2 separate regions of the Homo sapiens genome follow, and region 2 is linked to region 1. Evidence: fine-mapped expression QTL. A gene starts in region 1. The other region holds a variant in brackets. All regions are shown on one strand. Distances are from middle to middle.

Region 1 (11,784 bases):
AATCCTGTAATCACCACCATAACCATGATATAAAACCTTTCCATCACTCCCCAAATCCCTTAGAGTCTTTTGCATTTGATTCCCTCCCACTTTAGCCCTGGAGAACTACTGATCTGCATTCTGTCACTTCAGTTTTGCCTTTCCTTGAATATCATATAGAGGGAATTATTTGTAGTATTTTGTGTTATATATATAACCCTCCTTGGGTTATTTATTTTGTTCAGTGAAAAATCCACCAATAGTTGTATGGCTAGGGGCAAAATAGACATAAACCTATTTCTCAACATTCTGGGAGCGTGTGCCCTCAGGGGTCTCGCTACTTATCGTGCAGAGTTTCACTTAATCTCTCTTTTCAATATGGCCTCAGCTGTATCTTCTGACCTAAAACATATTTCGTTCCTTGTTCAACATTTACAAAATTAAATATATTATCTTCTTCTAGGCTTTGGTAGGAGTGTTTTTTGGCTGTGAATTGTTAGAAGAGGTAATCCAGGAAGCCTAAAAGCTTTAATTTAAAAAAAGAATTTGTTATGAATACATAATATTTGCACTTATTTATGGGATACATGTGATATTTTTATACAAACATACAGTGTGCAGTGATCAAATCAGGGTAACTGGAATATCCATCCCTTCAAGCATTTATCACTTCCTTGTTGTTAGAAACATTCCAATTCCACTCTTAGTTATATTGAAATATGTAATAAGTTACTGTTAACTATAGTTGCCCTATTATGCTACTGAACATTAGATCTTATTCCCTGTATCTAACTGTATTTTTGTGCTCATTAACTATCCCCTATTTATCCCCTCCTTGCTATTACCCTTCCCGTCCTCTGATAGCCATCATTCTACTCTCTATCTCTAAGAGTTCAATATTTTTCTTAGCTTCCACATATGAGTGAGAACATGCAATATTTGTCTTTCTGTGCCTGGCTTATTTCACTTAATGTCCTCCAGTTTCATCTGTGTTGTTGCAAATGACAAGATTTCATTCTTTTTATGGCTGAATAATATTTCCTTGTGTATACATACTACATTTTCTTTATCCATTCATCCACTGATGGATACTCAGGTTGATTCTTTATCATGGCTGCTATAAATATGAGAGTGCAGATGTATCTTTGATATACTGATTTCCTTTCTTTTGGATATATACTTAGCAGTGGGATTGTGGACCACATGTTAGTTCTATTTTTAATTTATTTATTGTTTTGAGGAACCTCCATTCTGTTCTTCACAGTGACTGTACTAATTTATATTCCCACCAACAGTGTACGAGGGTTCCCTTTTCTCCACATTCTCACCAACATTCATTATTGCCTGTCTTTCTGATAAAAGTCATTTATTAGAAAGATTGTATCTCATTAGAAGCTTTGGGTCACTGAGCCTGTTTAATGGTAGGTTTCACTCTAAGGTGATTTTCTGATAAAAGTCATTTATCAGAAAGACAGGGGTGAGATATTTCCTTGTTTTGATTTGCATTTCTTTGATGAATAGAAATTTCTTTATATAGTTGTTGGCTATTTGTATGTTTCTTTTGAGAAATGTCTGTTGAGATCTTTTGCCCATTTTTCAATCTGATTTTTTTTCCTGTAGAGTTGTTTGAGTTTCTTATATATTCTGGTTATTAAACCCTTGTCAGATGGATAGTTCGCAAATATTTTCTCCCATTCTGTGGGTTGTCTCTTCAGTTTTTTTGATTGTTTCCTTTGCTGTGTGCAGAAACTTTAGCTCGATGTGATTCAATTTGTCCATTTTGCTTTGGTTGCCTGTTCTTTTGAGACCTTACTCAAGAAATCTTTCCCAGACCTATGAAATGGAGTGTTTCCCCAATATTCTCTTCTAGTAGTTTCATAGTTTCAGGTATTAGATTGAAGTATTTAATCCACTTTGACTTGATTTTTGTATCGTGAGAGAGAGGGTCTAGATTCAGTCTTCTGCAAATGGACATCCAGTTTTCCAAGCACTATTTATTGAAGAGACTGTCCTTTCCCTAATGTATGTTCTGGGTGCCTTTCTCAAAAATGATTTGACTGTAAATGCATGAATTTATTTCTCGGTGCTTTCTTCTGTCCTACTGGCCTATATATTCGTTTTGATGCCAGTATCATGCTCTTTTGGTTACTTTACCTTTGTATTATAATTTGAAACCAGGTAATATGACACCTCCAGCTTCCCCCTGCCCTGGCCTCCCCTCAGGATTGCTTTGTCTATTTGGCTTCTTTTGTGGTTTTACATAAATTTTAGCATTATTTTTCCTATTTCTGTGAAGAATGTCATTGGCATTTTGATAGACATTGCATTGAATGTGTAGATTGCTTCGGGTGGTGTGGGCATTTTAAAAATATTGTTTCTTCCAATCCATAAACATAAAATATCTTTGCATTTTTTTGTGTCCTCTTCCATTTCTTTCATGAATGTTTTACGGTTTTCATTGTAGACATCTTTCACTTCTTTGGTTAAGTTTATCCGTAGATATTTTGTTTTATTTGTAGCTATTGTAAATGGGATTACTTTTTCATTTTCTATTTCAGAAATGCTACTGTTTTCATATGTTGATTTTGTATCCTGCAACTTTACTGGACTGATCAATTCTAATAGTTTTTTTTTTTTTTTTTTTTTTGGTGGAGTCTTTAGGCTTTTTTAAATATAAGATCACATCATCTGCAAGCAAGGACAATTTGACTTCTTCCTTTCTAATTTGGATGAAGGGGCCTAATAACTTTTTATAAAATTTTTTAACCAATGTTTTGTTCTCTGTTCTATGCCTCACCTTGAGAACTATCTGGTACTCTAACTTCTGAACATGTCTTGATTTTATAGTAGGGATTAGATTTCTTCTTATTGGCTTTTCCCATTGCAAATCTAGGTTTCTGATTTATTAACTCCTCTGTTACTGTTTGTTTACGTGTTCAAGATTCAGTTGACATCACTTCTCTCTTTCTTTTTGTGGGATGATAACCCTGTTCCTTTTCTGGTCATTTCAGTTGAGTTTTGATAAGAAGTAATGGTACATTTTGTATATTTAATTCCTGTTTCATCTATTTTAATATTTATTAATTTTTATCTATGTCTCAAATGAAAGTAAGCTGCATGGATTATACAAAATATCCTGTTTTTAAACTTCAATTAATAGCATTTTTACAAAAGTCAATTATGAAAAGCATAGATGTCAAATGACTAAAATTATGCTGAATATAAAATGAATTCTATAATCACCTCTGTACCATGAAATGGCTTTCTTGCACCATTGTTACCTAAAGTAGCAGGAGAAAAAAGGCTTACCATCTCCTTTAATGTAACATGCTTGCTTTGGGCTTATGTTGTAAAAGAATTGCTAAGAACAGACAAGCATTTACATGCAGTGCTGCTGCTGCTGGACTTGCCTCAAAGAAGTGAGAATAAAAATGGCCTAGCAACTATTTCATGCCCATTTGTCCACTGGTCAGTGCAAGCCAAGGGAAACTTACTGAGTCAAAGCTAGAATTTAGAGAGCTTTATTATCTTGCTTTGCTTGTGAACTTGATTTTTCAACACGATTAGTGAATCTATTCTCTGAAAAGTAACATCACGTGGGCATTTTCAGTCTTTCACCAAACAAGCTAGTATGTAAGTGAATTTGTATGAATTTGCATATACTTGTTATTTGTTAGAGCATTTGTACATTGAGTTTGTGCTCATCATTATAAAATTATCATGAGGAATAGTTTTTGTACAGTCATGTGTCACACAACATTTTGGTCAACAATGGGCTGCATGTGTAACGGTGGTCCCACAAGACTAATAGAGTTGAAAAATTTCTGTCACCTAGTGACATCATAGCCTAATCTTACAGTGTAATACATTACTCATGTGTTTATGGTGATGCCACTGTAAACAAACCTACTGTGCTGCCAGTCATATAAAAGTATAGTGTATACAATTATGTATAGTACATTATACTTTATAATGGTAATAAATGACTATGTTACTAGTTTATACTATGTTACCAGTAAATACTAGTATAGTATTTACTACACTATACATTTTATTGTTATTTTAGAGTTTTCTCCTCTAGCTATAAAAAAAGTTAACTGTAAAACAGCTTCAGGCAGGTCCTTCGGGAGGTATTCCAGAATAAGGCATTGTCATCATAGAAGATGACAGCTCCATGCATGTCATTGCCCCTAAAGCCCTTCCAGCTTTCAGTGGGACAAGATGTGGAGGCGGAAGACATGATATCGATGCCTGTCTCTGTGTAGGCCTAGGCTAGTGTGTGTGTATGTTTTAGTTTTTAACAAAGTTCAAAAAGTTAAAAAAGTTGTTTTAAAAAGAAGAAAGCTTATAGAATAAGGATACATAGAAAACATTTTTGTGCAGCTTTACAATATATTTTGTATAAAATACCTTGTATTTGTGTTTCAGCTAAGCATTACTATAAAGGAGTCAAAAAGTTTTAAAACATTAAAAAGTTTATAAAGTAAAAGTTACAGTAAACTAAGGTTAATTTACCATTGAAGAAAGAAACTATTCTAAATAAATTTAGTGTAGCCTAAGCATACAGTATGTATAAAGTCTAAGTAGTGTAATGTCCTAGGCCTTCATATCCACTCACCACTTACTCACTCACACGGAGCAACTTTTAGTCCTGCAAGCTGCATTCATGGTAAGTGCCCTATACAGGTGTACCATTTTTTACCTTTTATACCATATTTTTATTGTACCTTTCCTATGTTTAGATATGTTTAAATACACAAATACTTATTGTTGTGTTACAGTTGCCTACAGCAGAGTTCCCAACCCCCAGGCCATGGGCTGGTCTGTGGCCTGTTAGGAACTGGGCCACACAGCAGGAGGTGAGCTGCAGGCAAGCAAGCAAAGCTTCATCTATATTTACAGGGGCTCTCCATCTCCCACATTACTGCCTGAACTCTGCCTCCTGTCAGATCAGTGGTAGCATTAGATTCCCGTAAGAGCATGAACCCTATTGTGAACTGCACATGCAAGGGATCTAGGTTGTGCACTCCTTATAAGAATCTACTGCCTGATGATCTATCACTGTCTCCCATCACCCCCAGATAGGACCGTCTAGTTGTAGGAAAACAAGCTCAGGTCTTCCACTGATTCTATATTACGGTGAGTTGTATAATTATTTCACTATGTATTGCAATGTAATAATAATAGAATTAAAGTGCACAATAAATGTAATGCACTTGAATCATCCCAGAACCATCTTCCCCACCCCCTGTCTGTGGAAAAAATTATCTTCCAAGAAACTGGTCCCTGGTGCCGAAAAGGTTGGGGACCGCTGGCCTGTAGTATTCAGTATAGTAAAATGCTGTACAGGTTTGAAGCCTAGGAGCAATTGACTATTCCATCCAGCATAGCTGTGTAGTAAGCTATACTATCTGGTTGTGTACAAGTACACCCTATGATGTTCTTACAACTGCATCGCCTAAGGATGCATCTCTTCAACTTCTCACCGTGGTTGAGGGATGCATGACTATATATATTTTCAATTTCCAATCAGCTAGGAATCACATTCCTGTAACTACTTGATTGGATATTTTTGGTTGTTTGTTCACCAGTATAGCAGGCAGGCTTTTAAGAATAATAAATCCATAAATTAGATTAAAATATTGGACCATATTAATGGTTGGTGCTATCAGGAATGGAGACTTACTAGGAAGAGTTTAGCGCATGTTGGAGGAAACTCAGGAAAAAAAAAAGGCCAAAAGTAACACCTGTGAAGTAAGGTGAAAGCGCCTGGAGCTATTTAGCCAGAAATGAGTTGTGGTATAATAACTGTCATAGATATGTATCAGAACATGACTAATTGTTGTTCGTCTTTGCTGAAATCTGAAAAGAAAAAAGTTCAAGGGTAGTTTAAGTGATGTATGTTTAATACTGAGAAGAAGAGCCATGACAGCTGATGGACAGGACATAAGAATGCTTATCATGGGATACATCTCTTGGGAAGAGAAAAAGGGCTTTTACATGTAGCAGTCTTCCCTGTCATGAATGAGGACAGGTCCTGCCTTAAGGCAGAGGGTTTACTAGTTGGCTTCCACAAGGCCCTTCTAGAACTGTAATTCTGAGCCACTTCAGATGCTGAGATTGAACTCGACACAGCCAAGTATCTCCTCTTTTAGGAGCTCCAGCAGTGCCGAGGAGGCAGTGCCACCAGCAGCGACGACAGCATTTATTCCAACTGAAGACTTCACTCAAAGGTGAGTCAGGTCAGTGTGGACCTGGGCGCTTCCTTTTCCTCCAGCTCTCACTGGGTCCAGGCACAGGAGCCCTGAGGGATCGGCGACCACAGTACTCCCTCCCCGGCCACCAATATAAGCTTTGACAGAGGATGGCTGGTTAGCTGGTGTTAGGTGGGAGGGACTCGCCACGGAGACGCGCTCAAGGAGGGATGAGTTGCGCCACCACCACCTAGGTCCCTCTCTCGCTATCCGGCGGGGCCGCCCGGACCCAGGTGCTGCCAGGGTACGCCTGGCGCCCGCCATCCCAGAGCAGCGTCCCGCTGCGCACGGTCTCCCTCCAGCTCCGGTCCCCGCGGGAGGGCGCGTGGGATGATGCGCGGGTCCTTGTGCCTTCCCCAAGCTCCAGCATCCGGAGCCGCCCTAGCCGGCACCGCGGCAGCCACAGCCTGGGAGAGAGAAAGGAAAGAGGGAGGGCGGCGGGAAAGGCTCGGCGCGGGAGGAGGGCGGGTGAGGAGGGAAGGAGCGAGGGGGAGGGAGCCTCTCTCCTCAGCGGTGCAGCTAGTCTCCCTCCAGCGGGCGGCGACTCCGGGTTCCCCCTCGCGCCCTCTCGCAGAGGCTCGCCCCCTTCCCCGCCCACCGTCCCTGCGAGCGCGGGCGGCGGCGGTGGGCGTGTGCGCGCGTGAAGGACGCCGCCTCTCTCTCGCTCCTGCGTTCGCAGGCGGCGGCTGGCGGCCGGCTTCTCGCTCGGGCAGCGGCGGCGGCGGCGGCGGCGGCTTCCGGAGTCCCGCTGCGAAGATGCTCAAAGTCACGGTGCCCTCCTGCTCCGCCTCGTCCTGCTCTTCGGTCACCGCCAGTGCGGCCCCGGGGACCGCGAGCCTCGTCCCGGATTACTGGATCGACGGCTCCAACAGGGATGCGCTGAGCGATTTCTTCGAGGTGGAGTCGGAGCTGGGACGGTAAGGCGCGGGCTCCGGCTGGGGAAGCCCGCGGCGTGCACTGGGGGTTGTCCCTCTCGCAGCGACGGCTCGGAGGGTGCGGGAGCCTGCCTTCGTGCCCTTCGATTTCTCCCTACCTAGTTAGTGTCTTGAGAGAGAGCTAACCTTCATTCAGGTGCGGCTCGAGTCCTTCCCACCCCACCAGAGCGCCTAGGCCGGTGCAGCTGTAGGATCAGCCCGACTCCCTCCCACCTTCCCTCCTTCTCGCAGGCTGCCACTTCCCTTGGGTGACAGCTCCCACCGCACGTGGGCCCTGCTTTCCCAATTGATATCTTTGCTCACGATTATAGCTTGCCAGAGGGTCCTGTTTGTCTAGTTATTGTTTAGGGTGGGGGCCGGAGGGTGCCCCTCCAAATCAAGACAGAATTATTAAGTTAGATTCCTCCTCCTTCCCCTCGTCAAGCTCTCCAAAGCAAGTGACACGAGAAATTAAACTTAAATACTAGCTTCCCTGCAGAGTCTGCTCAGGAGTGAAGGGAGAAATGAATCATTTAAGAGAGTTGAAGGCAGAATAATGAACTAGTGTGGCTTTAAAGAGAAAGCAGCATATGGGATCCAGGCAGTGGTAATTAGTGAGAATGCTGCTGCTTCCCTTCTTTCATGGGCTGGAGTGATTTATTTAAATTATATATGCAACAGACCATCTCCCTAGGATTGCAGATATGTCCCCTATCCCTCCTCTGAAGATCCAAACAGGTAGCAGTTTGGCCTTCTGCATGATTCCATATGCTTTCGTATTTGTATCCATTGAAAATTATAGTTTTCTTTCCCTTACTTCCTTTTTTTTTGTCTTTTCTCTCTGTTATCCATAGGTAAGGAGATTTATTTTCAACACTTATTTTAGATCCAGGCTCTTTAGTATAGGGAATCTGAAGATGTAATTTCAACGGTTGACAAGTTGCAGCTTCTGTACTTACTACTCCTTTGCAATTTCATTTTTCATTCTCTTTTTGCTGGAAATAGTATTGCTAACAGCCTTTTTATTTTTTCAAGTCATTGGAGGATCCAGAGCAGGATTCTGGATGTTGGTATTTAGTGGGAAGATGTAATGATCACTGCCCACTCTCCCCCCACTTTGCTAGTACTATTGAAGGCTCATTGAATATAGATGTGTAAAATAGGCAAACTTCTGAATGAAAATTCAGTGATTTGTCACTGTTAAAAATGTTTTGAAGTATTTGAGCACTGAATAATGTATACATAAACATCCATTTTTGATCAAGTTTTTCAGTATTCATCTGAAGATCTATTATATATATAGGTGGAAATGAAAGGACAATGATGTCGATTTTTGTAAGGTCCAAAACATGCCTGTTATTAATTGTATGATGCGTGACAGTGGAACCATGTAAACCTCTGAGTAAAGGGATGATCTACTTAAAATTGTTTACTGGGTGTTTTATAAACTACTGTGTAGTAGAGGAAGTGCCTGATGCTGCTGCAGGGACTGTCCCAGTAGCACATCTGTTTTCAGAGTAACATTAACCCTAGATGCCTCAAATAGGCTGACTTATCCACACACGTTGTCTTTATGAATAAGCTTCATCGTCATGAAACTCAAGAAATTCACTTTAATTTGAAAAATGGGAAAAAAATAAACTGCCAATTGTATACCCCTATGAGATGGTAGCCTGCATAGGAAAAAACTGAGAAATTTGAAGTTTGGGTTTTTTATTTTTCAGTTCAGAATTACGTGTTGCAGTAAATTTTGGAGGACAAATATTAATCGGTTATACAGAAGCTTCTCAACTTATGATGGTGTTATGTCCCAATAAGCCCACTGTAGTTGAAAATATCAGAAGTTGAAAATGCATTTACTACACCTGTGCTAACAAACGTTGTAGCTTAGCCTAGCCTACCTGAAACATGCTCAGAACACTTAATATTAGCCTACATTTGGGCAAAATCATCTAACATAAAGCCTATTTTATAATAACTGTTAAATACCGTGTACAGATGGGATTTTGTAGACATGGTGAGATATGAAACACAAAACACAATATTCAAAAAACACTGACAACAGAGAACACTCTAGAGTTCCGGTTGTTTACCCTCCTGTGGTTAACTGGGAGCTGTGGCTAATGGCCGGTGCCCAGCATCAGAGAGAGTATCCTACCATGTATAGTTCAGGAAAAGATCAAAATTTGAAGTACGATTTCTACTGAATGCTATCACTTTCCCACCATCATAAAAGTCGAAAAATTGTAAGTTAAGCCCATCCTATTGGAGACCCTCTGTCTATACATTGCTAAGATTCTCGCTCTATTATCTAGTCTTATGATTACTGTAAAAGATCACAGAGTTAAACTACATTGAGGAACAATAAAAGCTAAAATGTCTTACTTAGGCTCTGTTTGTCAGCAGTAAAGCGTATTGTTAGGTAAGTTTTCTGTACATGGCAGCATTCGTGGGGTGCATGCTTACTCTGGCTGAGACTTTGAGAAGTATCATTTTCATTATCAGAAATTTTTAAGTAAATAAACTTAAAACATCAACTACTATTCTAGATATAATTATTAAGAATCGATAGAGCCAGAGAATGCAACAGAATGATGATCGTAGATATTGGCTGAGTGACTAAAATCTTCTTTCTTCCTACACTAGAGATCAAGTTGAACTCAGGTCATCAGTTTCAAGCCTTTACTCTCAGCTTTGGACCAAATCCACCTGCTAGTGTGACTCTAATTCATTAGTAATGCAGTTGTCATTAATATACTAAGAGAACAGTGCTTCTGGTGTTACGTGTTGCTGTTGTGGTTAGCTCTAGAAAGTAGACAGTCTCCACCAGAATTAGTGATTTGTTGGCTCCTCCATTACAGTTGTCTGTTGTAAAGTAGTGACTCCTGATTGCAAGAAGATTGGACGGTGACCACTGGGGCGATACACCCTGAGGATGTGTTTGGGAACTCAAGGGGAGCTAAACTCCCAAGGCTATATCCACCTGAAGCCCCTGGATAGTGCTGGCGAAGGCAGGTGCTGGCAGCACTGATCCACATGGAGCCATTGAGACCAAGACAGATGTGCTCACTTTCTTTTGGCAGGGAGGGCATAGAGTATAGGGGTTACGGGTGAATTAAAAGTATCAGGCAAAGTAATTTTCCTAAAATCACATTTGAAGACACTGTTTTGTTCATAGAGTTTTTCAAAAAGTTTACAAAAATCATGACACACACACATTCAACTCTACTTAAAAATACGAATTGGCCATGATCCTATTCAGGGCTCCAGATCCTCGAGAGCAGTTGGTCTTTTGCCCAGTGATTTGAGAAACTGGCATTTTAAAGGCTTTTCTGAGGGAGAAGGGAGCTGCCTCTGGTCCAGATCCCGCCCAGTGGTTTGGCACATGGAATGACAGGAAATGGCCCAGCCTGCTTGGTGGTGCAGATTTCGTCTGTGCATGCAAACCCATGTCCTGTTTTCAGTTGTCTCACCTTTAGTTTCTCACTGTTGTTCCATGTTGAAAGAAAAGATGATAAGAAAACCAGATGTATTCCCAGACATACAAATCCAAGGAAACCAAACCAAATGAAAGATAATTAGAACAAGAGAAGAATGTGTTAAACTATTTTGGAACCTTTTTTTTCTTTAAATTTAGTTCCCATTCCACTTACTGTAGTTTCTTTAGGCTAGGCACTTTGCATACTCCTCCCCACTGCAATGTAATTTTAAATAATACATTTATGTGTCACATTTATGTAAACACAATTATGTGTATACATTTATAATTTTAAATACATTTATTTGTCAACTCAATTAAACTAATTATATAGGATCCCTTGCTATATGTATTATTGTTTAGGAACCAAATAGATTTCCATAGTAAGGGGTGTGTGTGTGTGTGTGTGTGTGTGTGTGTGTGTGTGTATAAAACAGAAACAATTTCATAAAACAGTGTTTATTCTTATTACCAGCAATGCACTTTAATATTTTCTATTATATGCTGTTTGATTTCATCTATTTTGTTAAAAAAACTTGGCTGAACCCATGTGATTTCACATCCCACTAATGTGTTGTGATTCAGTTTGAAAAGTGCTGTTGTAGGCCATAAATCTGTGTGTGATAGATTAAGCTATGAGGCAGAGTCTTTTAAAGAAATTCCCTGCAGACCAATTGGCAACATTGGGTGGTATCCTTTTGGCACAGCCCTGTAGAGAAAAAGGCTCCTATCTTTGCCTCCAGGTCATTACTGATTTTTCCCCTTCTAAACATTTTGGAAAAACTCTGGTGTCTCCCTAAGGTCTGCTGGGCACACAGTAATTTGAACTGGCTAAGAGTGCCAGGGGCTGTGTTGGGAAGGAACTCAGAGACTGAGAAGTGGTATATTCTACATGGTAACATGTATTCTGGCTCCAGGTCACAGTGAGCAAATGCTTTCTATAAGGAAACACGAAAGCGTGCATTTTCTAAGAGAAGGGCTTCAGCCAATGTTCTTGGCTTGTCTTAGTGCTCTTGGCTCTGGTTGATATAACAAGATGTCTTAGACTGGGTGGCTTAAACAATAAATATGCATTTCTCACAGCTCTGGAGGCTAGGAAGTCCAAGATCAGGGTCCCAGCCAATGCATTTCCTCAGTTAGGACTCTCTGTTTTGCAGAT
Region 2 (11,931 bases), 270 kb after region 1:
CTATTCCAGAAGGAGAGAAAATTCAAGGCGATGGGGCCCAAGCCGCAGTTAAGGGGGCACAGGCTGAGCTGATGAAGGTGCAAGCCTTAGAGAAAGTTAAAGGTGCAGATATAAATGCTGAAGAGGCCCCCAAAATGGTGCCCAAGGCAGTGGAGGATGGGATAAAGGTGGCTGACCTGGAACTAGAGGAGGGCCTAGCAGAGGAGAAGCTGAAGACTGTGGAGGAGGCAGCAGCTCCCAGAGAAGGGCAAGGAAGCTCTGCTGTGGGTTTTGAAGTTCCACAGCAAGATGTGATCCTGCCAGAGTACTAAACAGCTTCCTTCAGATCTGGAAGCCAAACACCGGCATTTTATGTACTTTGTCCTTCAGCAAGAAAGGTGTGGAAGCATGATATGTACTATAGTGATTCTGTTTTTGAGGTGCAAAAAACATACATATATACCAGTTGGTAATTCTAACTTCAATGCATGTGACTGCTTTATGAAAATAATAGTGTCTTCTATGGCATGTAATGGATACCTAATACCGATGAGTTAAATCTTGCAAGTTAACACAACGTAACACTTAAAAGCATACATTTTCAGCAACCAGTGGCACATATTTGAAGTGAATAGTAGCAAATTGTTTTTGCTTTGAAAATCTAGCCATCCTACATCCTTTGGATTTCTTCACAAGGCAGTAATTCCTTTGAACTACTGCTTAGCTAATACTAGGTAGTGCTAAAAGACATGTTCCCATAACTTTTACAACATTTTACTTTTTATCATTGATGTGTTCAAACTGTTTACAAGGAGATGCTTATAGATGATAGTTGTACATATGTGCAAAAAAAAATCCACTTGCAATGGTAAGAAATTGAAGTATCCTTAAAGGCCATGAAGCCATATGTCCCTAAAGCCTGTGTGGAGAATGCTTTATTTTATTCTTATTTATATACACTATATTAATAATAACCAAAATGTTCTAAGATTCTGCCATTTTACAACCCTGGAGGAAGTAATTTACAAACTCACGCTGAGTTCCATTCTTTCCTTCACCTGCTCTCCAATAAGATGACTTTCTGATAGACAAAGCTTAGGGTGTAATAAACAGGGAAGAAAAGAAGGTAAGACTGTACTTAAACTGATGAAGATAAGATTGATTCCTTTTCATTTTCCAGATAAAATTGTATTTACTCATGAATTTATACAACTTTACAGATAAGAACATTTTAATGGATAAACTCTATAATTACCAAGTTGCAAATATTTAGAAAATTCTATTTCACAGGTTAGTGCCAAAATGTCTTCATAGAGTAGGAATAATATTCCATTTTAAGATTATTCATTATTGACTTTAATAGAGTAAGAAAACATTATTGTTTATCAAAGCTCTTTTTTTATCCAATTGATGGTTATCTACACATATCACTTATAAACTAAAGTTATTTATGAAAAGCTAGTATGTCTTTTTCTCGTATTTGGAATGAAAGTACCCACATTTTACAATGTAGTGTTGAGAATGTGGCTGCCAATAAATTTAGCACAATGCAATTTATTTACCTTAAAAAACAAACAAAAACAAAAATAAAGAAAAATACTGATTTCAAATCAGACTCTTAAAAAGCTGGAACATTAGACCTGATATTTTATTATGATTTTTCCCAGAATAAGTTTAATTTCTCTTTGACTTTCATAGAAACACTTTCCCCTTATAGAAATTGCACTATCTCCAATTTATTTCTAGTTTGAGTTGAAATGAATATTTTATCAGATTAATTATGTGTCACATTTTTGGTGGGTTTTCTCAATTTTAAAAAAGAATTCATTTTAAAAAATAATTATTTTCAGAGACCAAATAAAGACAATAAAAATGACTATCACATAAAAATCCTTGTTAAAAAAGAGATCTTAAATTATGTTGGCTCTCCCTCAAAACTATTAAATTAGAAAACGAAACTAAAGCTCCAGTTTGTAGAGGCTGTTGGACCTCAGTAGACATTCTTCTTTTCAATCACAAATCTCTCTCTACTACTGTTCTCATGGGAAGAAAACAAGGTAGGACTTCTTATCTTTCATAGTTTAAGAATCTGACAGGTCACTGATATGGAGCCCCTGAAGAAGCACATCATCTGGGCTCAGAAGATTATTTTTTGTTTTGTTTTATTTGTACTATCTAGTAGAGAGCACTTTTCTTATTCCCTCTTTCCTTCCTTCCTCATTTAATTATTCCCTCTCAGAATTCCCATGTTGTCCATTATAAGGGGCTCGCTATTTTTAACCTTTAAGAATGTCTTCTTTGTTAAGCATTAAGATTTCCATTTAAGAGGATCAATTTCCTGTTGTACTTTTTACCATGAGACTGAAACACACACACACACACACACACACACACACACACACACACACGTGTTGGAAGAGCAAAGAGAGGGAAGGGGGTCTTTTTAGAAAGTGGCACTTGGCGCTTAGCTGAAAGATCAGAACACATCATTCCTCCCTGCCCACCCCCATATTGTTCCAAGGGCAGTTGTTACATTATTTCAACACTAGAGTAGGGCGGACTGCATTGTTTGGCCCTGAGAACTATAGAAACAACGTTGCAAATACCATGCCCAATGTGTATTTTAGAATTTACTCATTTAAATGAGTGCATATTACCATTCCTCCATGTGAGTACTCGAGTTGATAATTCCCTCTATCTTTTTAAACCCATAAACTACATTTTTAAAAAAATCAATGGGAGTTTTAAATTTTGACTCATGTTAAAGATAAGATTCTGATAATGACTATATAGTGACTAATTTCATTGTTTCAGTAGGAAACAAATCAAACTTTCAAAAATGTTGGTCATTTCAGTCAAATTATTCAAAGATTTCATATACATACATCCTAAGTTAGGATAATTATGTTAACATTTTTGAAAGAACAGCCAATGTTTATATTGCTTGTTAAAATGGAATGTATTGTCTATCTCAAAGATTACTTAGCTAAATAATAGTAGACAAATGGAGATTTAATTTCACAAAATACTTCATAACATCACTCCTAATTGGCAATATAGTCACAAAGCAAAAGAATTCAAATTTCAGCAAACAATAAATTACATTTTACATTTTAGAGCTAACACTTATCACATTACATTATGGGTTTTTATTTTGAGATAAGTTCAGCTACATAGCATAAACTAGGTTTTTTTTTATAACCATGAAGGACAGTCTTGAATTATTTCCCCCATTAACAAAGTCTAATTGGAATCCAGTATTTTTTCTCAAACTGTAATTTCACTTGTCCCAGGACACATAAATAGGTAAAAATTAGAATAATATCGTGGTAGAAGTTAATTGTCCAGAACAAGTGCATTATATAAATATAATGCAAGCACATGTCATTTAAGATTTTCTATTAGTCACATTTTAAGAAAAATAGATGAAAGTATAGTATTTTTAATCCAATTCATCCAAATTATTCTATCGATATATAGTCAATATTAAAATTTAATGTGATATTTTGAATTCTTTATTTTTATACTGTTTTCAAAATCAAGAGTGTATGTTAGGCCTTTGGGACATCAAGTGCTCAATAGTCACATGTGGCTAGTGGCTACCATATTAGACAGCACTAGTCTAGAGTACTTTTTATTTTAAGCAAAGTGACACTTGAAGTTCTATGCTTAGATTTAAGTGGCCTCAGTTTTCACATTGAGGAGCTGGTGGGAGGCCACAAAGAAAGTGTTTCAGAAATGTTACACACTGAGTAAAAGCTTATTGACCACTCCTGCCCATTCATTTACTTCAGAGGAGAAATGATTCCTAACATGACTTCAAAGAACGGGCATTACTAAATTATCTACTGACCAATCCCTCTGATTCCTGATGGGCCCTGGAGTCTTGACTACAGCCTAGAGTCTCCTGAGTACTGCCATGATGCCAATAGCATTCTTGCTTACCAAAATCTACTCTCAGCCAACTATGTGTCTTCATTCAGGAAGAACTGCACATAGAATCTGATTTTGAGGCCTGGATTAAGCTTCATGCCATCCTTGTATCACAGGCAATATGTCTTTCTGGAAATCTAATGAACCATACCAAATCTGCATGATGAAGATTGTGTAATGATGGTGATATCATGCCAGTTATCCTCAAAGTGGGAATATGACCATTAGCTGGCATTTTTTAAGATTTCCTTAGAAGGGTTTAATCAACACTGCCATTACACATGGATTTAACAAAAGACTTTTGAAAATTTTTTACATACTGATTTTAGAATAATCCTCAAGGTTCTATAGTCATTTTTAGTGGAAGACTTAAAAAGAAAGGAACAATTTTTACTGTGACTTCAATTTCATAGTATTTTAAACATATTTTGTAATTCAGAATGTTTAGCAATCCCTATGTCCTGTTTCACATGCATGGTAACTGATGGTGGGTTGCCTACAGGCTGAAGATTTGGAGAGAGCCATTTTGTTTCATAAATCAGTTTTTATTGCACAGAAGCAGCTGGTTGTATTTCAAGTTGGAAAAAGAAAAGTAAATGCCAGAAAAGGCAAAGGATAAACTTAGTAAGCCATTTATTTTGTTTTAGAATTGTTTTTGCAAAGCAAATTTTTTTAAAAAAAGGTCAACAAAGTGAATCAGCACTAGCATTTTCTTGATGGTTGACTCAATGTATAATTAACAAATATACATAGCAGAGTCAATTAATCATAGTGCCATTATGTCACTTATTTGTCATTGCAAAGTATTCAGTCATGTTGTCTAGATTTACTTTAGATGGTGCAAAATTTCCAGATAGTAACCTATGTAAAAGGATTTGTAATTTCCTTGTAATTCCTGCCTATTAGTCCATATTCTGATTTCCTTATGTTCATCACTGATATGTTCCTGATCAGGGTCATTGCTAGTAGTTGAGCATTTACTGGTTGAACATTGTTTAATGGTTAGATGTTATGTGTGTCTGCATTTAAAAAAATTGTGTACATGTTATTTCACTATTGGTATTACAATATTCATAACCACATGATAAACAGAAATGTACCCAATAATTTCCTATAAAATTTTTCAAAGTCCTTTTATTCCCCTGACACACTCAGGGTGAATTTTTGTCTCCTTGGCAAATAAGAAAAAAAAGGAGAGAGACCACTGGAGAGATATCAGCAAACCACCCACAGTAACCAAGTTCAGTATTTCCTCTTTCTATATTTTGACCAATATATTAAGAGCAAATTTTGTCATTATTACTCCTTGTGGCTATTACCTGAGATCAGATAATATAATCTCAGCTCATAAAGCTTGGCCATGTCTATACTTATCTTGGAGAGCAATAACAAACTTGATTAATTTGTTTGGTTATTTAAAATTCCAACTTTCATAAATGCTCTGTGATGTACTCAAGACGATTGGGTTGTGTGATACTAACTTCCTTCAAGAACTCAGTCTGTTCCCTGTTGTCTGGTTCAGAGGTCCACCAGGGCAAAA[TAGA/T]AGCCTTGCCGAGAAAGTGAACTGTCTTACTCCTTCAAAGGAATCAGATGTTGCTCTAGAGAAGACTCCAGGCATCTACCTGGTTGAGCTCAAATGAGGCAAGTGGGAGAAAACCTCTTCTCATCCTCTGATTGAAAGTGATACAATTTGAATATTGGTATATTGTCATTGGTCAGTAATGGAAAAATGAGATTCCACCAGTGGGTTACTCTTTTCTTGTCTTGGTTTGCTATGCCTTATCCCAGATCAGTGTTTTGTTCCATCCCTATGGTCATCTCTAAAGCCCTGACAGGAGCATCCCAGACTGGAGAAATGCAGCGTATCTGTGGCCCAGAATTTTGTTTGATACTCTAAACAGCAATGCAAAGACTGCAAAATCACACTATTCTAAACAGTTGTTTTCAGCTCATTTTGAAGATTGACCTGGAAAACATATAGATACAGAATATATACATTTAATCGTTGCTTGTGATTCATTGTGTCAAAATAACATTTAATTTTCACTCTGATTAATCTTTATTTTCCATTTAAAAGATTATTTCAGGCTACTTAAATACAAGACCTTGCATTCTAATTTTTGAAAGCGGTTGTTTTCCCTGAGCTCTCTCTCAACTTTGACAGTTTGTGAATGATAAAAAGTTACTAGGTTTGTCCTTTCCTTGATAGATGTAGAGCAGTTCATCTGTTTTGTAAAGGTACAGTTAAGCATAACTATAGGCTGGGCGTGATAGTTCATGCCTGTAATCCCAACACTTTGGGAGGCCGAGGTTGGCAGATCACCTGAGGTCAGGAGTTTGAGACCAGCCTGGCCAACGTGGTGAAACCCCTAATACAAAAATTAGCTGGGCATGGTGGCACGCTCCTGTAATCTCAGCTACTCAGGAGGCTGAGGCAGGAGAATCTCTTGAACCCGGGAGGCAGAGGTTGCAGTGAGCCAAGATCATGCCACTGCACTCCAGCCTGGACAACAAGAGCGAAACTCCGTCAAAAAAAAATATATATATATGACCATAAATTGAAAACTATCATCTCATACTGCCTCCTTTTAACCTGACCTATTTTATATACCTACAATACAGTTAATATGCAGCAGCGTAGAGAACAAATAGCATATTCATAATTTGTAATTTTGTTTTTCTTTTTACGGCACCCTTAAGTCTCAGTAATATTTTAAAAGTCCTCTATAAGCCAAAAGAACGTTGTAACATATCCATTTATTAAGGAGTTAGGCCTAAACATAGTAATAGTAGTCCATTCCATGTCCAACAGATGTTGCTGTGTTTCTTTCAACATTTTTCAATGTCTTGTGAGTTTAGTGAGTGGGTACAGCTGAGTTGGGGTTTAGGTGATTTCTTATGCCCAATGAACTAAAGGTATCAGTAAAAGATTATTAGTAAACAAATTAGTTATTTATGCTCTTACTTGAATGTCAGTCATTCATTTTATCTCTCGTCTTTGAGATACACACATTAAAACTTATGTGCATATTTTTTTAAAGAGTAATTTCCACATAATTCCCCAAGAACTGAACTCAAATCTCCAAAAATTTTTCAGAACTCAAGCAACCAATGATTCACAGAGCAAATCTACCAAAGCCCCATTTTTATTGGAACACAGGCATGCTCATTTATGTACATATTGTTTGTGGCTGCTTTTATGTTGTCAAGGCAGAGTTGAGTACTTTCAACAGAGACCATATGGACTGCAAAGCCTAAAATGTGTATCTGGACCCTTACAGTAAAACAATGACCCTGGGTTTTCATGGCACCCCAATGCCTTTTTGGTGACTTGCAGGAATACAGATTCCTATATTCCAGTTTGTTTTTTTTTTTTTCTCCTTAGCTTAAGGTTCGTATTCCCATTTGCTTCTGAGAAAGTTAGGAAAATTTTGTTTTATGTTGCAGATGCTCTCACAACAATAATTGTGCTGGAGATAGATACAACTTAGTGAAATTTTCCTACAGAACTAAAAACGCAAAATTGCATCACTCCTGAAGAAAAGAAATTTAGAGTATGAATTGAGTTGGTTGAGAGTAGAATTAAAAAGATTTCTAGCACTTTGAGCATGTTTTAGAAATTTGATCCTTACATTTAAAATTATGTAAATGACATCTTTCACTGGCATTTGCTCACATTTAAGTCAATCTACAGCTGTTACTTACTAAGCTAAGAAATAAGAAGATCCCTATGGTTCTGAATCTCTCATAATATTCTGAAGTAATTTATATCAATTGAATTTTCATTAATCATTTTAGGAAATATTATGTTTTATTTTGTGGCATTATATGACAATGACTTTCTCAACAATAGCTCAGGGAATACGCAAACAGCCAGCTCTTTTATGTAAGAAAGCCATTTTCTAATCCCCACGCTTTCCTGAGTGTTACGTATTTTATTTCTTTGAAAAGAGAGGGCCTTGAGTAAATGCTTTCGTTTGCTTTCCTTACATATTTAGAAATCCAAGAAGGGCCCTTGTCTTAGTCTATTTCTGTCACAGAGAAATTGTTCATTCCAAAATATCCACCTTAAGGGAAGCTAGTGACCGAGATATGGAGAAAAACATAGGCATTCATGACCTTTGTGTTTCCGTTTGACTTTCAACATCTGTAACCAAAAGGTCACAAATGAAATATTTAGTAGAAAGTGCAATATCAATTTATTAGGAGTACCTAAAATTATAACTCTAAATAATATACAGCAATATTATTGCTCTATTATTACAGCAATCAATAATATAATATAGCCACTAGGATACACTCGCTGTAGAACTCAGAACAAAAGATATCAATCTTCTGCCAGTCCGCATCATTATGTGTAGCAGAGACTTTACTGGAATGAGTGAGGGGAAAGATAACAAAATGTAGATTAGGATTCCACATTCTCCCCTGCCCATCTTCTTGATTGCTCAGTTTGAAGACGATCATTGATGGACAAATACTTTAGAAATGAATGAAGTCAATAGCTAATGTTTCTCCCAGAAACTAAACAACATAGTTTAGGGGATATTAGGCCTACATTCTAATCACATTGTAAGGAAGTGATTTTCTAATTTTGAAGCTTCCCAGGAGCAGCCCCCTCCAGGAACAATTTTCCCTGTGAACTTTCACTGAGAAACTATTATATGCCATGGAGGAGTCAAAGATGAATTAAATCCAATGCTATCCTCCAGGAGTGAGCTTTGTAGTTGGAGAGAAAAGCCAACCTTATAGATACAACCTGTACATATATAACCTATGCTGCATTTAGGCAGATGATAAGCCCTAGGAATGGAAAGAGGGAAAAGCTCCCTTTTGCCAGGAATGATGAAGGAAAGCTTTATGGAAACACAGGCTGTATGTGAAAGATGGGTGAATCTTTGCAGGTAGGGAAGAAGTAGGGGGCATGTCTGGCTGAGAACCGGCCTGATCATAGAGTGGAAAAATGAAAGGCAGAGGTGAAGGAAGAATACTAAATGTGAAAGGCTGAAATACACAGGGAAGTGTTGCCAGTGTGCAACAGAATCTCATCTCGTGCAAAATTGAATTAGACTTCCTTACTCCTTCCTTACTCTGGGTAGGTCCATGTGCAGCCTTTCCTCAGAGCATCTAGCCTGACATACTTGGCTCATCTGCTGTGCTTCTAAGCCAAATAAAAATCATCAAACACATCGAAGATATTTTTGGGAGTCACCAGGTTAAAGCAAAGCCTCAGTCACTGAAAGCAAAAACTGAATTGGCCAGGTCTCCACTGACAAAACAGAGTAAATGATAGTATGACAGATAATTTCAAGTTTTCCAAGACTCCAATTTCTGAAAAATGTCTCATGACTCCAAAAAATCACGTACTTCCTAAAATGTTGCCAGTGGAGGACCGAATCAAGGTTATTGCTGACCTCATTTTTTCAACCTTTTCAGTTATTTGACCTGAATAGGCAATCCCCCAGGATTTCTGATTGAATTCTACCTGAAAGTTTAGATTTTAAAAGACAACCTGTAGGAAGCTAAGTCTCAGGCAACAAAATTTAAAACCATCAGAACTTGTTTCTCCAAACATCAACCTGCTCCTGTCAAGTCCTTTTTCATCTCTCCCTTTTGTCCCTTTACATACTGTTTTGTAAGTTCCTTTTGATATCATTTATTGCAGGCAGTATTTTTACATCCATCTTCAAGAAACTTGGGAGACATTTAGACATTTAGTATGTGTACTTTTAGTTGTCTTGCCTCTTTATTTCAGATAATGCCTGTGATTAGTGAATGGCGGCATTATTCCTGAAGACAAATGAAGGAAGATAGGGAGCAAGATTGACTGTCATTTGAATGATGGAAGAGAAGTAGAATTACTGTGAGGTTACAAAAATCGTAAGTTAGCAGACATTGAGAAAGGAAAACTTCCTACTTGGGCTTTTCAGGCTTATGTGACATTATCTGGATGTGTTTTCTAGTCTTTCCTAAAGGAGAAATTTTTATTCCTGGGTTGCTGAAAGCTTTCTGGACTAAAAGGATATAAGCAGCTCAATAGCAGCATAGAGGATTAGATTAATGGAACAGCACTGCATACAGGAAAGCTACATCTCCAATAGTTTAGGCTGCAAGTCAGTAGCCAAACACAAGAGCATGTAAGATTTGGAGGACAAAGTATAAATATTTTAAGTTTACACAACCAAGATTATAGGCTACCTTCCCAACTTCTAATTTGAAGAGCACTGAAAATGGAGCTGTGAACACTTCATTTTTAAAACCTGACAATATGGTGCTATTGACTACTTAATACAAAGATATATTACAATATTTTTAGGTAAATGTATTAAGTCTGGCCTGGGCATAAATGTACATACAGAAAATGTTTGTAGAGAATTCATCAAAATCATGCCCATTTGCTGTTGTAGAGCTACAGTATTCTTCAATGGTGGTGACTGACCAGTGAGTTTCTACTTCTTACAGATGGGACACAACAGTCATGGGCTGTCTCAGCTGCCCAAAGCCTGAGGCAGACCACATGAGAGCTGTGGCTTCTTCTTGGATTCAGGTTGGATAACCCAATTCAGTAATTAAATATGTAAATTTTGGGGGGGGTTGGGGGGTGTTTTCTAGGAACTTGAAGAGTACGTGACATTATAAAAAATGGGTGTTGGAAGACTAATTGTAGAAATTTGACCTGAGGGCCAATGTTACTTGGTGTAAGTTCACTCAGACAGACATGTCAGAACATGCCCAAAGAAGCCTATATCTTGCTGCTGGGAAATGTAAAGCAGTTGGCATGTAGAATACGATAATAAATCATTTAAGAAACCACCAAAACTTTGCATTCTGTGATTTCAAATGTTACCACAATTCAAGAGAGACACCATGGACATTTTTCTTACACCTGAAATGTGCAGTTGAATCACTCCTTGAGTGTTTTCCCATTCTCTCAGATAAAATTATACTTTGAGTTTCATAGCCTTTTTTTTAACACTGAGTGCTCACATATTTTCTGTTGAGTAAAATTATAAAATCACTAGAGTTAAAAGAGGATATTAGTAATCATTTAATCCAATAAGCTCACTTTATTAAAGAGAGCTATTATGCCCAAGAGAGGTAATGGCTTACCTAAGGTCACAGTGGCTGAAGAAGGAATAGACCAGGGTTGCCCAGCTCCTAGTCCAGTGCTCTCACTACCATTCAGGCTGCTATAATAAAATACCATAAACTGGGTGGCTTATCACAATTTATTTCTGACATTTCTGGCACAAGTCCAAGAACAGTCCTGCAGGTTTGGTATCTATGAGTGCCTGCTTCCTCACAGAGGATGCCTTCTTGCTGTGTCCTCATATGGCAGAAGGACCAAAGCATCTCACTTGGGCCTCTTCTATAAAGGTACTAATCACATTCATTAGGGTTACCTAATCAACTCTCAAAGCTTTTAAAACCATTATCTTAGAGGTTAGGATTTTAACATCTGCGTTTTAGGGGAACACAAATATTCAAACCATAGTACCAGATGTTTTATTAAATGAGGAAAGTAACTCCCTGCTTCACAGTCATATTTTCTATTACATACTTACCACAGCATCCCTAACTGCCTTCTTATAACATAGATCGTGGGTGTCCTTGTAATCACTTTTAGTTTTTTTCAATTCCAAACAAAATATCATAATTCCTAATCAAGGTAACACAATTATTTCAACATGTGTACAATAAATCCTGTCCATAATTTACAAAGGCACAATATATTATTTGTTCTGAATATATAATAGCAAATAAAGTTTCAGCAGTATTGTATAACAGCTAATATTATATGAGACACTGGCAGGAGAGATCAGCATGTGTGTTGTTAATTTGACTTTCCAGGTTTATATTTTCCTTTTGTAAGAATTCAGGAAGTTAAATTACATACTTTAAATTCAGGCATATGAAACTAAATAGTACTTAATGTTAAATTACAAAGATAATATCAATGACCAATTTTAAGAGTGTCTACAAATTTTTATTTTGTTTCATACCAATTTAAAAATAAAT

Which allele goes with the higher level. Positions count from the first base shown, and alleles are read on the strand shown. Sizes are in standard deviations (SD) of each study's normalised expression.
For the expression in testis of the gene that starts at base 6,890 in region 1, allele T in region 2 goes with a higher level than allele TAGA (small effect, 0.25 SD a copy in GTEx).

What was found.
Region 2: its variant is fine-mapped to the expression of CAMK4 in testis (GTEx, PIP above 0.99).

Annotation. Positions count from the first base shown.
Region 1 is chr5:111,217,495-111,229,278 of GRCh38, forward strand. It overlaps CAMK4 (calcium/calmodulin dependent protein kinase IV), which reads left to right and starts at 6,890. Exons shown (of 11, transcript NM_001744.6): 1 at 6,890-7,150. The coding sequence starts at 6,990. RefSeq lists enhancers at 6,019-6,118, 7,079-7,128 and a silencer at 6,479-6,968.
Region 2 is chr5:111,484,156-111,496,086 of GRCh38, forward strand. It overlaps CAMK4 (calcium/calmodulin dependent protein kinase IV), which reads left to right. Exons shown (of 11, transcript NM_001744.6): 11 at 1-10,731. The coding sequence ends at 311. STARD4 (StAR related lipid transfer domain containing 4) reads right to left here. Exons shown (of 6, transcript NM_139164.3): 6 at 11,878-11,931. Among named protein-coding and RNA genes, the nearest start is that of STARD4-AS1, 22 kb to the right of the region's middle. The variant TAGA/T (reference allele first, on the strand shown) is at 5,453.